Linked DNA regions of Homo sapiens: region 1 is linked to region 2. The links come from fine-mapping of genetic effects on gene expression. A gene starts in region 2. The other region holds a variant in brackets. All regions are shown on one strand. Distances are between the middles of the regions.

Evidence for each region.
Region 1: its variant is fine-mapped to the expression of FGF9 in gastroesophageal junction (GTEx, PIP 0.98).

Annotation. Positions count from the first base shown.
Region 1 is chr13:21,883,166-21,886,183 of GRCh38, forward strand. No RefSeq gene overlaps it. Among named protein-coding and RNA genes, the nearest start is that of LINC00424, 6.5 kb to the left of the region's middle. The variant T/C (reference allele first, on the strand shown) is at 1,231.
Region 2 is chr13:21,669,930-21,672,429 of GRCh38, forward strand. It overlaps FGF9 (fibroblast growth factor 9), which reads left to right and starts at 1,144. Exons shown (of 3, transcript NM_002010.3): 1 at 1,144-2,260. The coding sequence starts at 1,984. RefSeq lists silencers at 1-221, 1,002-1,051, 1,072-1,131.

The DNA of each region.
Region 1 (3,018 bases), 210 kb after region 2:
TTAATACAAAAGCACTAAGCGGGAAGTAGGCTCAGTTCTGGGATCCCTTTCAGTCAGTGAATAGAGGACAGAGTTTGGTTCAGACACTTTTAATATGGTACCATTGCAGGGTTGGAACATTATTTCTCCTATTCTAATTTGTTCATAGTAATATGTAAAAGCAATACAAATGCTTCAGATTTTCAGGTTTATGAATAAAAGAGAGCAGATATTCCACCTGAGAACATGCCCAGTATTCTTTTATGGGATGGAAGGGGGTCCCTATGCCCACATATATTAAAGAGCGCACCTGCCTTCAATAAGCCTAGATCAGCATATATAAGAGAACTGCATGCCAAATTTGCCTTGTAAATCAGGAATAAAAAGAGCAGACGTGTTTCTCGGCAAGGGAAAAAGTGAAGAGGTGCAGTTGAGATTTGTGAGCTGAAAACGATCAGTCGAGCCAATGAAATCCTTGAAACATTCTGTACAATCGCAGCCACTTTCAGATTTTAATATTTCAGAAAAATAATCATTGCTATTGTGTAAAGTAAAATATGCTAAATGCTCACAGCCTGTATAGAGCTATAATGCCTTATGTATTGTACTATTAAGAAATAAAACCTGCCTCTTCTATCCTCATGGAAAACAGAGGACATATGTAACTAATCAACACATCCCAGTGAGATAATCCATTTACAGCTTGGTAAGAAAACTGATCATATTCTGTGGGCGACTCCCCATCACCCATTTCCTCCAGCCTGACTCAAAGTCCTGTTGGAGATTGTGATTACACTTTTCTTATCCCTCAGTGAAGAGTCAGTTTCTGATGCTGTGTCTGCCATTGTGTGTGTGTGTGTGTGTGTGTGTGTGTGGTGTGTTGACTTATTTATTTAGCTCTGTTAGGCTCAGAATCAGAACAGCACAGATTTGTAGGACAATTTGTCATTTTCTGGGACTGAGAAAAGATGAAGAATTCATCCATAGGGGCTACTTTTGGTGGCTTGGAATCAGAAAGGTTTACCTAGCCCAGTCTGTGCAGATGGAATTTCTAGAAGTCTTTTGGAGAGACCAGAAAGCGAATGAAAAAATGGTACATTTTTGATAGGAACAGAAGAAAATGATGTGTGAATTCACCTAGTTATGTGGGACTTGATGAATCCAGATGGACTCTAAATCATTCTTTTATTTGCTGATTAGTGCCAGGGGTTTTGAGCCTTGTAGAGGGGCACAACACTGAAGCTCTGACAT[T/C]AAACAAACTGGTTTCAGTCCTTGGTTCTCAGTCAGGGCAGCTGTAAAATCAGATATGAGGACCTGAGACTGAGGAGCAGATGTAGTGTTTGCACTGGGCCTTTATGGTAAACAAGCTGCTCCTGGGCACAGCCCTTCACTCCTGCCCCCTCCCAGCCCGAGTTCATGTTCCTTATTGATGCTACTGAAAGAAGCTTCCTGGGGAGCCCAAAATGCATTCTTCGTCGGGCCATGTTAATTATTGTTTATAATCACCGAATACAGTTTATATCCAGATCTGACTTGGAAAGTAAGCTCAGGCAGGGGAGAGGATCTGAGAGTGGATTGCATACTTGGAATTCTAAATCATCGTTCCTTGTTTTAATTTTCCCTTCAGGAGGATGTTCTTGGCCCTTCATGGGCTGGGTCACCTCCAGCTTGCACATTAATTCACAATGGAATTTCTACAGGACAAACAGGAGGGGGGTGGTTTAGGACACTATTGAAAACTATTTAACTCTCTTTGGTCTCAAACTGGAGTCGACAGGCATTAAATGCACATGGGCAAACATATTGACACATGATTGGCTGTTTCAGTAAGCAGGGCCTTTACAACAATTCCAAGCTGTTGACACTTTAAGAGAGCACTCCTTCCTCCCAAGTTACACTGGAGGATGCCTTGAATCTGTCTACACACTCAGTGGCTGCTCCTAAGTCTCTGTGTGGTGACCGACGTCGACCAGGGTTAGCAGAAGCTGTTGAGAACACAAGGAAGGAAGCTTCAGGGAGCTGACAGCCTGGGCGGCCAGTACACCTCACCTGAAAGATGGGGCATGGGCCAGAGCTTGGACACCAGAGTAAGCCCTGGCTTTGAATCCTAGTTCTGTGACCTTGGTCAAGGAGATTAATGTTTAGTAGCTTTGGTTTCTTTATCTGTAAAACAGGAATCAGAGTGGTAGCGACACTGCAAGGCCCTTACAAGAGGAAGTCAGCAGCTTTAGAGTCCTTCCAGCTTTTGTTCTGAATTTGCCTGGTAACTGGCTTTCTAGAAGAGCTCATTGCTGGATGGTTTGACTCCATAGCACGCGAGGAGTTTCGGCACCTGCTACCATCCTCATTATTCGTTCACATGCTGGATAGTCCATGGAGTGGACAGGCAGCAAGAAGGATAGCAGCATGGAAGTAAATTGTGGATTTGTCAGCACCAGTGCTTTATTTGGACAGTTTTGCTGGAACTCAGCTCCTTGTGACTGCACCATTCATGAGTGAGTTCACTCAACAAATACTGACTGAGCACCTGGCAGGTGGCAGGCATTGTTCTGTGAGCCAAGCAAAGTCCTTGCCGTTGCGGATTTACCTTCTAGCATGGAGAGAGAGAACAAACAGATAAATATGCAATATGGCAGAGGGCAGTCCTCACTGGAGGGAGAGATTAAGAAGGGTAGAGGGTAAGGAGTATTGCAAAAGGGGTGTGCAGTGCTTCTGTCCATGGGGTAGTCGGGGCAGGCATTTCTGGTTAGGCACGGAGGCAGGAAGCTGGGCCGGGCTCTGAGGAGGACATTCCAAGCAGGGATGTAGCAAGTCCGAGGACCCCGAGGTGGGAGCTGACTTGGTCCTTTTGAAAAGCTTCAAGGACTGTGATACCTGGGAAGCAGGGAGAGCTGGTGAGAAGTGAGTTCAGAGGCGGCAGGAGGTGGGCAGACCACCGTAAGCATCCTGGCTTATTTCTCTGGGTGGGAGGGGAAGCCATCGGAGGGTCTGAAGAAGGCAAAACTGAGATCTCTGCAAGGAAGCTGCCATGATTGTCTG
Region 2 (2,500 bases):
GCGCCCGCCGCCACTGGGGATCCGGGCGCAGGCAGGCTGTCCCGGGCGCAGAGCGCGCCGCCTCCAGTCTCTCTGGCGGGCCCGGCCCGGCAGGGCCCCTGGCGGCCCCCGGAGGCGGGTTTCTTTGTCCCTGACTCCCGCTGGGCGCGAAGGCCGCCGGCGGCTAACAGAAACCCGAGCCCGCGCAACGGAGCTCAGGCTTCCACGTGCGGCCCCGCAGGGCAGAGCAGGAAGGAGCGGCTGCAGCCCCGGGGCGCCCCGCAAGCATCCAGTGCCCGGCCCTCCCAGCTCCGCGGCGGGCTTCGGACGGTGGAGTGAGACACCAGAACTCGCCTTTCGCTTCCCCGAGCCGATGCACGGCTTGGGATGGCGCCGCTCGTCCTAAGCAGCGTGGTTTGAGGGCGAGAAGACGCCTACTGGAGCGCTCCCCTCCACCCAGACTCCCGAAGACGCGCGCCCGAGTCGAAGTCGGGGACAGAGAAGGTTCTCTGGCGCCCCCCTGCCGACTGCTTTGCGGCCGCCGGGACCCGAGCAGCGGGGCGGGACCTAAACATAGCCCCAACCCAAAGATGCCCAGCAGAACGCTCCAAACAAAACAGAAACGGTGGCCGCATCTGCGTGTGTGTGTGTGTGTGTGTGTGTGACGGGGGAGAGGAGTTGATCTTACCTGAAACATAGTTTGCGCTTCTGTGTGTGTGGCCGAAGAATGGAAGAGAAACTGCCATGGCCATCCGAGTCCATTAAATCAACTCCCCTTCCCTCCGACTCTCTCAACTCAGTCATATTCTATAATACAACGCAAGGTTACAGAGCCCCAGTGAAAACTAGTTTCCCAGTTTCACTCTGACCCTCCATCAATGTAGCCAGCCAGCTAGATTGTAGGTTACCGGCTTCTATTCTGCAGGAGAACTTTGAGTCTCGGGAGACTCAGGGTTTCTTCCTCCCGCCTCTCGCAGTGCATCTTTCATTTGCTTTTCTTTGTAAAGCCAGGGCTCCTCGACTGCCTCCCAGGAAGTCCTGCGCTCTGGCGCGCCGCACCTCGCCTGCCGCAGAGCGGCGCGGGCAGTAAGCCGGGCGCTAGGACCGCGGGGAGCCCGGGCTGCGGCGGCGCTACCTTAAACCCAGCCCAATGCCGCTGCCTGCGCCACTCTGCGCGCCGGCGGGGGCTGCGCAGGAGGAGCGCTCCGCCCGGCTACAACGCTCCGCGAGCCGGCGCGGCAACACCTGTTCGCGGCAGCCTGGGCGGCACGCGAGCTCCCGGACGCGGCTCTCCTCGCTCGCCGCTCGCCACCCGTTCTAAGCCAATGGACATCTGCCGAGCCTCTGGAGAATCCTGGATACTAGCTTTGGACGCCTAAAGTTTCTTCTTCTTTTTGTTTTATTATTATTATCATTTTTTGGAGGGGGGACCGGGAGGGGAGATTTGTCGCCGCCACCAACGTGAGATTTTTTTTTCCCCTTGAAGGATTCATGCTGATGTCTGCAGAGTCGGTTAGAGAGTAAAAACAGCGCATGCCTTCCTGGAGTCAGGATCCGTAAATTCTGACGTAGCCCGTGCATCTTAAAAATCCCTATAATAACGCCTAGGCATTTAAGTTGCTATGGTCATTCTGATCTCAAACCAAATGGAGAAACTACGGATTTTTTTTCCTTATTACGGTCGGATGGGATGAAGACCTTCCTGCCTGCTAAGAGCTGGGGATCTATCTATAGAGATACATAGATATGTTTATCAATATGTCAGTGTGTGAGTATAAAGTGGTGGTTTCTTAGACTATCAGTGGTTTGACCTTGAACCTGTGCCAGTGAAACAGCAGATTACTTTTATTTATGCATTTAATGGATTGAAGAAAAGAACCTTTTTTTTCTCTCTCTCTCTGCAACTGCAGTAAGGGAGGGGAGTTGGATATACCTCGCCTAATATCTCCTGGGTTGACACCATCATTATTGTTTATTCTTGTGCTCCAAAAGCCGAGTCCTCTGATGGCTCCCTTAGGTGAAGTTGGGAACTATTTCGGTGTGCAGGATGCGGTACCGTTTGGGAATGTGCCCGTGTTGCCGGTGGACAGCCCGGTTTTGTTAAGTGACCACCTGGGTCAGTCCGAAGCAGGGGGGCTCCCCAGGGGACCCGCAGTCACGGACTTGGATCATTTAAAGGGGATTCTCAGGCGGAGGCAGCTATACTGCAGGACTGGATTTCACTTAGAAATCTTCCCCAATGGTACTATCCAGGGAACCAGGAAAGACCACAGCCGATTTGGTAGGTATACCATTAACCCTTTAGTGTCCATGAGATGACATGTTGAAATTATAACTACCAAGAAGGTGGTGGCCGGGTGGGGGACGTGGGAAGGGTTCTCCCCTCCTCCCCTCTTTCTCTGTATCTCTGTCTCTCTCTCTCTCTGTCTTGCCAGCTCCGAAAAAAAAATGCCTCCGGAATTGCAGATCTGCTGCTGGCACTGATGCAAGTATACACTGAAAGGCCCCCTACTTTTAATTT